Linked DNA regions of Homo sapiens. The protein of the gene in region 1 interacts with the protein of each later gene in a pairwise test. Each region holds a gene or a part of one and is shown on either strand. Other genes may lie near its edges. The genes, in order: CBS and GAL.

Region 1 (6,434 bases):
TCATACACACTAGCATGGCTATAATAATTTAAAACAAGAAAATAGCAAGTGTTGATAAGGACCTGGAGAAACTGGAACCCTCGGGCACTGTTGGTGAGAATGGAAATCGGTGTGACCAGTATGGAACACAGCTTGATGGTTCCTCAAAAAATAAACATGGACGCCGGGCGCAGTGGCTCACGCCTGTCATCCCAGCACTTTGGGAGGCTGAGGCAGGTGGATCACCTGAGGTCAGGAGTTCAAGACCAGCCTGGCCAACATGGTAAAACCCTGTCTCTACAAAAATACAAAAATTAGCCAGGCACAGTGGTGCACACTTGTAATCCTGGCTACTCGGGAGGCTGAGGCAGGAGAATCGCTTGAACCCAGGAGGTGGAGGTTGCAGTGAGCCGAGATTGTGCCATTGTACTCCAGCCTGGCAACAGAGCAAGACTCCATCTCAAAAAAAAAAAAAAAAAAAAATTAAACATGGAGTTACCACATTAACCAGCAATGCCACTCCTGGGTACACACCCAAGAAAAGTGAAAAGAGGTGTCCAGACATACTCGGCCATGAAGGTGCACAGCAGGTTACTCACAAGGGCTGAAAAGCAGAAACAACCAGGTGTCCATCACCGATAAATGAGGAACCAAAATGTGGTCTATCCACACAATGGCTTATTATTCGGCCACAAAAAGAAACCAAGTACACGTGCTCTGACATGCCTGAAAATACCATGCAAAGTGAAATAAGTTAGACACGAGGCCACAATTGTGTGATTCCATTTATATGAAATGTCCAGAACAGGGAAAACCTATTTTAGACAACAGAGACACAAAGTCGATCAGCAGTTGCCAGGGGAGGAGGAAGACGGGAGGGGAAATGATTGCTTCACGGGGTGATGACAGAATGTTCCAGAACGTGACAGAGGTGGTGCCTACACAACTTTCTGGATGTACTAAATGCCGCTGATTGTTCACTTTCAAGTGATTGATTTTTAGGTTATTTGAATTTCATCTCAATTAAAAAACCCAAACACGCAAACTGCTCCCGCCAGCTCAGCCCCGAGCAGACGGCGCAGCCCGTGGAGGATGCTGAGCCACCCAGGCTTCTCCCCGCCCCTTCCTGGACTCTTCTCTCTTTTGCCTTTAATCCACTCTGCGCAGTCATTGCCTGTGTTCATCCTACCTGGCCGACTTCTCTCTCAATATTTCCTTGGTGAAACATCCTAAGAGGAAGTTACATTAGAGAAAATCACATATTTCATCTCATAGGCCGTAAACAGGGCCATTTAGGAAGCCATGTGTTAACGAGGGGAGACGGATGCTCTGTGCCGTGTGCAGGGATAACGGTGCCAGGCCAGGCAGTTACCAATCACGCGTGTGTTTAGGGCTCAGGAAAGCGAAGGAGAAGTGGGCAAGGGTGGCGGGCCCGCTCCGCACCGCCCAGCGCTCCGGACTTCACTTCTGGTCCCGCTCCTGGGCGGCCACGAAGTTCAGCAAGTCAATGGCGGTGACCACCCCGAACACCATCTGCCGCTGACTGGACTTCCCGGTGCTGTGGTCTGAGGGGAGAACGAGGCAGTGGGTTTGCAGGTGCCGTGGGAGGCTGGGTGGGCTGCTGCGGGGCAGGAGGCTCCTGAGGGCCTGGGGCACCTGTGCACCATGGGGGCCCAGGGTGGCTGGAGCCCAGCGGCGAAGGCTGTGTTCCTTTTTTTTTTTCTGAGACAGGGCCTCACTCTGTCCCCTAGGCTGGAGTGCAGTGGTGCAGTCTTGGCTCACTGCAACCTCCACCTCCTGGGTTCAAGTGATTCTCGTGCCTCAGACTCCCGAGTATCTGGGACTTCAGGTGCACATCACCACACCCAGCTAATTTTTGTATTTTTAGTAGAGATGGGGTTTTGCCATGTTGGCCAGGCTGGCCTTGAACTCCTGACCTCAAGTGATCCACTTGCCTCGGCTCCCAAAGTGCTGGGATTACAGGCGTGAGCCACTGTGCCTGGCCAAGCCAGTGTTCTTCTGACATGAGCCCCATGAGCCCCCAGGCCAGGTTCTACCCACCACGTGAGTCCCCTGGGCCCCAGGCCAGGCTCCACCCACCGCAGGTCAGGACACACCCTTCCCTGGCCCACCGGCTGAGCTCCTGAGGCACTCATGACTTCAGAGCCGGTGTGGGCATGAAATTCAAACCCGCTTACAGGGCCGGGCACAGTGGCTCACACCTGTGATCCCAGCGCTGTGGGAGGCCAAGGTGGGAGGATCATTTAAGCCCGGAAGTCTGGGACCAGCCTGGGCAACATATTGAGACCCTGTCTCTACAGAATATTTTTAAAAATAAATTAGTCGAGCATGGTGGCACACGCTTGTGGTCCCAGCTACTTGGGAGACTGAGGCAGAAGGATCAGTTGAGCACAGCAGGTCGAGGCTGCAGCGAGCTATGATGGCACTACTGCACTCCAGTCGGCAACAGAGCAAGACCCTGTCTCTAAAAACAGACAAAAACCCCTTGCCACCATGGGCAGCACACAGCTTCCATCTCTGGCCTGATTCTGTCTTCACCCCTCCTGCTTTCTCCTGGCAAGCGTAGACCCGGTGTTAATGCTGGCCGAGGCTCCCATGCCACATACCCAGACAGGGCTGTTGTGATGGTTAATTTTAATACAGATTAACGGGGCCGTGGGAGCCCAGGCATTGGTCACACGTCGTTCTGGGCATGTGTGAGGGGATTCCGGATTAGCACAAGAGTCAAGAGGCAGATAACGTGTGCTACTGTGGAGGGCCTCACCCAAGCAGTTGAAGGCCTGAATAGAACCAAAGGTGGAATTTCCTGCCTTGGGGCTTGAACTGCTGGCTCTCCAGTCTCCGGCCTGCCGCCTCACCCTGCAGATCTCAGGGTTTGTCAGCCTCCGTGATCTCATGATCCAGTTCCTTAACACAGATCTCGTTCCCTCTCTCTCCCCGCTCCCCACACATCCTCTTGGTCCTGCGTCTCCACAGGACCCTACACCAGCTGTCATGAGGCACAGAGGGGTGAGCAAGGTGCGGGTGAGGAAGAGCCCTCGGAGCCCGTCCCAACTCCGCCACGGCTGTCACTCCTCTCTTTGTAGGCAGAGGTCCCTTGGGGTGGCCCACTTAGAGCCCCAGGAAAAGATAGGGAACACAGATGAGATCAGCTCCTTGCATTTTGGGGAAACGGAGGCACAGCAACTGTTGGAGAAGGGAGCCCTGGGAGCCCTGAGTGCCGCAGGCTTCTGTGGCCCTGGCAGCTCGGCCCAGAGTCAATGGACTAGGGCCAGCCAGGGGACTTTCCGACAAGGGCCAGCTGGTGGTATTTTAGGTCTTGGGGGCCGTGCCGTCTCTGTTATGAGCACGCAGCCCTGACGTGCTTGAAAGCAGCCACAGACGGTGGTGACAAGCGTGGACATGCTCCAGGAAGACTTGATTTGGGGACCCTGACATTGGAATTTGCATCTTTTTTTTTTTCTGAGATGTTCAAACACAAGTAAATGTGAGATTAAGAGGGGGATCCCTCCTACCCAAGCTTGGGGGTGGGTCCAGGACCCTGGAAGGCCTCCATTTGCCATGGGGAGGCTGTGAATCTGAGCCTGAGAGCCATTCTGAGGGGTGGGTGATACCTACCTGCAGGCCCCCCCACCACGCCTGCCCAGGCCTGGTCCTGCGCTGCAGAGCCAAGGACGGGAGATGGGGTTAGACTTGGGGCCCTCACGGACCAGCCTCAGCCACCGAGCGCTCACCCCCTGCACACAGGCCTGGTGGGTGGGCAGGCTCCAGGCTCCAGGGCCCCTCCCAACTCTTCCTGTGGGCCCCAGGCCCAGGGCTGCCATCTATGACCCAAAACCTGCGAGCGACTCTCCTGGCCTGTGGGGATGTGGTGGGGACGCCCGGGGATGCGCTCAGGAGTTGCAAAACCTCATGAGCTTGCTGGGAGCGGGGCTCTGAGGACAGCCCATCAGTGGCTCCTGTGAGACCCACATGAGGCTTCCATTCAGAGCAGCCCTCCGAATGCCAGGGTCAGGACTTGAAACCCTTCTAGATGTTTCTGGGCTTGTCCCTGAGAATCCCCAAGACTGCTGGCCTCCCCGGAGGCAAGGGGCCTGGACTCCTGAGCCTCTGCATGCTGGACAAAGGGCCCTACCCAGTGTGGCCTGATGAGGGGTCCCTGCAGGAATCACAGGTACAGCCCACCAGCCCAGGGCATGTGGGAGGCCCAGGCATAAAGACTGGGTGTCACTGAAGGTCGGCACCACCCACTCCCCTAACACCCCGCAGGGGATGGGGGGCCCAGCTGCTGCCCATGGCAGAGGCCAGGCTTGGTGGCCTGACCCCAGTGAGAACCCCACGCACAGAGCAGGGCCCCACTCACACTGGATCTGCTCGTGCACCACCAGGGCGAAGTGGTCCATCTCCAGGATGTGCGAGAGCCTGCCCAGCGTGTCCGTGAGGCGGATCTGCAAGGGAAGCGTGGTCAGTGGCAGGGGGAACATGGCCCCACGAGTTTTCTGTGGAGTGAGAGGGGATGCGATGGTGGGTCCTGCAAAGCCCACCCGGGAGGCAGTGGCAGCCGAACGTGGGAAATACGTGGATTCGGGTGACGTCTCGGGTGTGTGTGTGAGATGGGAAAGAAGTCGAATTCACTCCTAGGTTTGGGCAGAACCCTCAGCCTTTCCAGTGTCAAGAGCCACACCTGCATGTCCCAGGGGATCCGTGTGGAAGGTCACACAAACTTTCCTGGGCCACCCTCAGGGCAGCAGAGGGTGGGTGTCTCAGGACAACCACGGAGTCTGACCAGCCCGGCAAGGAGCCACCGTGGGCTTCTCCCAGAATGTTCTAGCTCTTGTTGGATAACCAAGTGCATGCACAGGCAAATGAGGCTGGGCAGGAGAAAGACCCCGGCAGACGCCGCATGGTGCCCGGGACAGCCTCTGAGCGCGAATGACCTCCTTAAGTCCCCAAAACACGGCTGGTGTGGATGAGCCTGCACTGATGAGAGCCTGCTCTCCGGCTGCTGCACTTGTAAAGTGGGTGCTTCTCAGCTTCATGGTTTGAGGGGTGCAGCCAGCTTCGGCCTAAGTGGTGTTGAGGGTCGAGGACCCAGCACCCCCACACGGGAAGCGCGGTGTCCCGCCTTCGAGGCTGGAGTACTCTGGCACCCTCTGGGGTCCCGAAGTGCCTGAGTACCTGTTTGAGCCGCGTGTAGGTGACTGCGCACCTGTTTGAACTGCGTGTAGGTGACCGCGCACCTGTTTGAGCTGCCTGTAGCTGACCGGGCACCTGTTTGAGCTGCCTGTAGGTGACCGCGCACCTGTTTGAGCTGCCTGTAGGTGACTGGGCACCCGTTTGAGCTGCCTGTAGGTGACCGCGCACCCGTTTGAGCTGCCTGTAGGTGACCGGGCACCCGTTTGAGCTGCCTGTAGGTGACCGGGCACCCGTTTGAGCTGCCTGTAGGTGACTGGGCACCCGTTTGAGCTGCCTGTAGGTGACCGCGCACCCGCTTGAGCTGCCTGTAGCTGACCGCGCACCTGTTTGAGCTGCCTGTAGGTGACCGGGTACCTGTTTGAGCTGCCTGTAGGTGACCGCTCACCTGTTTGAGCTGCCTGTAGGTGACCGCGCACCTGTTTGAGCTGCGTGTAGGTGACCGGGCACCTGTTTGAGCTGCCTGTAGGTGACTGCGCATCTGTTTGAGCTGCCTGTAGGTGACTGGGTACCTGTTTGAACTGCTTGTAGATGACTTTGCCAACTTGGTCTGACGGCTGCACCTTCCCGGCAAGCAGGGACGAGAGCATGTTCCCAAGCGTCACCATTCCCAGGATTACCCTGTGGGACGGGGGCAGGCAGGGGTCAGCGCTCATACCTCACCCCTCCCAGGACGGTGGGGCACACGCTCAGCTGCCCCAGGGAGGAGCGCTCTCTGGCCACACATGGAAGTCCTCTGCCACGAGCCTACACGCGGCAGGAACCAGTCTGGGCCCTGGTGGGGAGAAAGAAACCAAGAGTCCTTGGACCCGTTCAGCCAGGGTCAAGGGTGACCAGCCGTCAGGTTTCCGCGACGTGGGGCTCTCAGTGGTCACTGGGCATGTGTGCCAAGGCTTTCTGCTGTCAGACATGTCCTCGGGGCATCTCTCCCCTGACCTCCAGGTGGGCCCAGGACAGCCTGCACACAAAGGGTGGGTGGGCTGAGGTCTGAGGGCCTGGAGTGAGCACGGCAGCCCTGCCCCAGGCTGCTCAGGGACCGGCAAGGGGCCTCCAATGCCCTGAACGTCTGTATGAGGCGGCCCAGGCGGGCCTATCAGCCCAGCTGCAGGGTCTGCATGGCTGCCCTGTCCAGTGACACTGACGGGGTGGAGCTGGGCAGACAGAACCCAGGACTGAGCTCTGAGCAGGGGCTGAGACTGACCCCGCCTCATCCACCACGGGCGCCTGGTCGAAGCCCTTCT
Region 2 (4,421 bases), on another chromosome or scaffold:
CTTTTTATCTCTGCTCAAAAGACTCAGTCTCTGTCACGTTAAGAGATATTCCCACAGGCCTTCCTTCACACAGCACCATCCCTGCACACACCTCCTGCCCTTGCCTTTCTACCTGCCCGCCCATCTCTCCTCTCCTGCCTTGCTCCTGGCCCTCCCACCTGGCCAACACGTCTGTTCTCAGCACTGACCACCTCCATGAGTACCACGCAACTCACCCATCTGTTTAAGGTTGTTGTAGTCTTTTTCATTCCCATCTCCCTAAAATATCAGCTCCACGAGGGCAGGGGTTTTGTCTGTTTTGTGTTTTTGTTCATCTCAGTAACAGACTTACCTTCATAATTACATTTGACTCAGCTTAATATGGAGATAAATTTATGTCCCCTGGACATGCAATAACAGGTGGTGTCTCAGATGCTCTTGACGGTAGAATTTGGGTTTAAAATTCATGTCTAATCCACGATTATGATCAAGCTTTATCTTTTAAAACCCATGGGTGGCGCTGGTGATGAGACAGAGGTGTGGAAGAAAAAGACAATTGCAAGTAATTGCTATTCTTTATTTTGCCACTCAAAATAATTACCAAAAAAAAAAAATCTTAAATGATAACAACACAACATCAAGGCAAAGAGAACAGGAATGGCTGACTCTGCATAAATTGGCCGAAGATTATCCATTATCTTAAGGTTTGACTTCAGGTTACAGCACACAGACAAACATGCCCAGGAGGCTCTCAGGACCGCTCGATGTCTTCTGAGGAGGCTGCGGCGGGGAGATCCAGGAGGCGGTCGAGGGCACCGGCCTCTGCAAAGGGAAGAGCCACATCTGAGCAGCAACTTCTTAATATGCACATGAGAGAATTACAACCACGACACATGCTACAGGAAGCGGCGTGTGGTCGTCCTCTGTAAAGATTCTTACCAGATTAAACCCAGAATCAGGGACAACACTCTGTATTCCTCACTTCGTAATGATTTAACTCCCACAGTTAGTAAGCATTTAAAACTGTCAGACTTTTAAATTCAGGCTTTAAAGAGGTATAATTCCTAGCTGAGTAATGAGAGCTGGTATATCCTAAGGAAAGAGTTTCCATGTTACAAAATTAAAAACAAATGAAAAACAAAAATCTAGCAGAGTCCCTCTGCCCCTTGTAGGAAAAGTCACCCCAGCTTTTCTCCCAGAGGCTCCACTGGGCTCCAACAGAGGGAACTTGGTGACTCGGTTTTGAGATTTCTAATGAACACCGCCTTTTCCAAGACCTTCTCTGGCAGTCTCCTTCCCCCGCTCCCCTCCCCTCACTCCTCTTCCCTCTCCCCATCGCCACCTAAAGTGCAGCCCGATAACACTGCAAATGAAAAACATCCTGATCCAAAATGAACCCAAGGATTAGCCTTGATTTTTCAAAACTGGACAAAACTGTGATGTGCAACTGAAGGTCTCCACTGGAGAGGCTAACGGTCCATCCCTCCTCCCCACCACCAGCTCCCTGTTAACTCTCAGAGCAGCAGGTGAAGGTCTTCTCCACTGGAGAGGCTAAGTGGTCCATCCCTCCTCCCCTCCACCACCTCCCCCTTAACTCTCAGAGCACCAGGTGAAGGTCTTCTCTGCTGGAGAGGCAAAGCGGTCTATCCCTCCTCCCCACCACTGCCTCCCCCTTAACTCTCAGAGCACCAGGTGAAGGTCTTCTCTGCTGGAGAGGCAAAGCGGTCCATCCCTCCTCCCCACCACCACCTCCCTGTTAACCCTCAGAGCACCGGGGCCGCTTTCCGGCTCCCTCCACTGCTGCAGTAGGACCTGTGTGGTTATCTGATCAAGGCCAGATGCCCATCGTAGAATGAATGCCAAGCGTAGTGTGCGGAGGTCTCCTCATCCCCAGTGTTTGCAGAAGACACTGGAAGCCAGGATCAGAGCCTTTCCAGTTAGATTTCAAGGCAGCCTGCCTGGCAGGAAGGCTGCATAGAGAAACACTGCAGTCTAAGATATGGGCTTCTATTAATTTCCCATGCTTAGAAAATATGGTTTAGGGCCAGGCACAGTGGCTCACGCCTGTAATCCCAGCACTTTGGGAGACTGAGGCAGACAGGTCACTTGAGGCCAGGAGTTCAAGATGAGCCTGGCCAACATGATGAACCCCAGCCTCTACTAAAAATACAAAAATTAGCCAGGCATAATTGTGCGCACCTGTTTTCCCAGCTACCTGGGAAGAAGAGGCACGAGAATCACTTGAGCCCAGGAGGCAGAGGCTGCAGTGAGCTGAGATTGCACCACTACATTCGAGCCTGGGCGACAGAGTGAGATGAAGGAAGGAAGGAAGAAAGAGAGAGAGAAAGAGGGAGGAAGAAAAAGGAAGGAAGGAAGAGAAAGAAGAAAGAAAGAAAAGAGAGAAGAGAAAGAAAAGACAGAGAAAAAAGAAAAGAGAAAAGGTTTAGGACGGTTCACAAAGAACTTGGCCTGTAGTATACCTCTGCCCTAAAAGGTACAGCAGTTGTCACCGTGTGAATAGATATGGTTCCAGTAGAATGAGCTGCACCCTGAGGCCCACTCTCTTCCTGGGACCAGCGCTGGCCCGATGGCCCTCCACGACGGTAGAATGCCCCTGCCGCAATCCCAGCCCTCTGGAGCTAGCTCTAGTGTTACATTCTCTGTTATCCCGACACACAGCCAAACAGGACTTTGTACGTAGATAAGTAATCGGCTACTTCCCAGGGGGATTCTATGGGTTCTCTTCTCGATGGGCCTTTTACGTTTCCAGTGTACTAAGAGATGAATGTTAAGTTGATGATATTTCACATACCTTTGAGATGCAAGAAAGACAGAAACTCAATGATTGTGCGCATGATATTGTTTTCAGGTATGGACCTGTCAAAGCTTCCTAGAAGAGAAAAGATCAACATTCACGACTTGTGCAGAGGGTGCTTCAGTGTCTCAGGTCATCCCCCTCCCTACAGAGGAGCTGGGCGCTGCAAGGTCAATGATCTGATCCCAGCAGCCTGAGGCCCTGCTGTGCTTTCCAAGGCCCTTGTTCAATGTGAGGGAGTTGGGGAGATATCCAGTTCGAGGCCTCGCTTTTCTTCTTCTTCTTCTTTTTAATTGAGATGGAGTCTCACTCTGTTGCCTAGGCTGGAATGCAGTGTCATGATCTTGGCTCACTGCAACCTCCGCCTCCCAGGTTCAAGTGATTCTCGAGCCTCTGCCTCCCAAGTAGCTGGGATGACAGGCACCCACCACCACGCCTGGCTAATTTTTATATTTTTGGTAGAGACAGGGTTTTGCCATGTTGGCCAGGCTGGTCTTGAACTCCAGACCTCAGGTGATCCACCCGCATCAGCCTCCCAGAGTGCTGGGATTACAGGCAGGAGCCATCGTGCCCAGTCCCGCTCTTCTGGAGGCCCTGGTGCCTGGGCAGCCTCCCAGCCTAGAAGGACCCCTTGCTGTCTCGGGTTTGCACGTTCTGTTTGCAGCTGCTGACAGGTGTGGCGAGGCCACATCGTCTTAGTCAAGTCATGGCCAGGCTTGGGCTGCAGCTGTGGACAGCCCCGACACCCACAGCTGTCCCCTGCATGCACCTGGGAGCTGGTGGAAGTGAGGTGCCCCGGGGCCCGGGATAGGAGTCCTCTCACCTGGTTTCATGTCATCTTCGGGCCGCAGCTCCCGCTTGCTGGTGAGGCCATTCTTGTCGCTGAATGACCTGTGGTTGCCAACGGCATCTGTTTGCAGATCAGAGAGGAAAGCCTCTGGGTGTGACTGTCATGCACGCCCTCCCCACACCCAAAGAAGGACACAGGGCTGCCTGTAGCCAACACACACACGCAACTCGACTGTGAAATAGAGCCCAGGGACAGACACCAGAGCAGAGGGAGCGATTCTCCACCCAGCTGAGGTAAGAGCTTGGCCGCTCACACCAGGGTCAAAGGGAATGTGAGGGTTTGCACAGGGTGGGTGGGAGAAAGGGAGGTGTGGCTCCTGAAGTGGGGGAGAGGCCCAGAACCTGCCCTGTTGCAGGGGTTGCGCCTGGGTCCAGAGGAGCTGGCATCTGAGCTGGCACTGAGCTGGCATCAAACTGGGTGACTCCCTGGCAGACAACAGGAGCTGGGTCCTCATGTCCCTGAAAGCATGGGGGACGCTGAAGAGTTTAAGTTGTGACTGAATCTGATTTTTATTTTCACTCTGGCAGCTGTGTGCAAGATGGACTGGAGCCAGAGAGAGAGAAGGAGAGAGACAGAGGGAGCGAGAGGGTCACAGAGGGAGACAGGATGGGGGTGGGGGGTGCAGGAGCGTGTGTGCGTTCCCGTGTGTGTGTGGGTGTGTTTCGTGGTGCGAAAATGGAGGAACTGTGATTGCAAGCACAGAGATCCCAGAATTCCAGGGAAGAAACGATGAAGGCTGTAAACCAAGAGGCGTGGGGTGAAGAGGAGGGCTGGATT

Evidence for each region.
Region 2: the proteins of CBS (region 1) and GAL interact in binary tests that used the Homo sapiens proteins (3 or more experiments, as listed by UniProt).

Annotation. Positions count from the first base shown.
Region 1 is NC_000021.9:43,052,440-43,058,873, forward strand, and holds the end of CBS (cystathionine beta-synthase), read right to left. Parts: coding exon 6,395-6,434; intron 5,969-6,394; exon of another isoform or gene 5,852-5,968; intron 5,815-5,851; coding exon 5,706-5,814; intron 4,449-5,705; coding exon 4,364-4,448; intron 3,661-4,363; coding exon of another isoform or gene 3,619-3,660; intron 1,545-3,618; coding exon 1,441-1,544; 3' UTR 752-1,440; downstream 1-751. UniProt on the Homo sapiens protein: Hydro-lyase catalyzing the first step of the transsulfuration pathway, where the hydroxyl group of L-serine is displaced by L-homocysteine in a beta-replacement reaction to form L-cystathionine, the precursor of L-cysteine.
Region 2 is NC_000011.10:68,687,297-68,691,717, reverse strand, and holds the end of GAL (galanin peptides preproprotein), read right to left. Parts: intron 3,878-4,421; exon of another isoform or gene 3,715-3,877; intron 3,705-3,714; coding exon 3,618-3,704; intron 2,927-3,617; exon of another isoform or gene 2,870-2,926; coding exon 2,792-2,869; intron 802-2,791; coding exon 731-801; 3' UTR 543-730; downstream 1-542. UniProt on the Homo sapiens protein: Endocrine hormone of the central and peripheral nervous systems that binds and activates the G protein-coupled receptors GALR1, GALR2, and GALR3.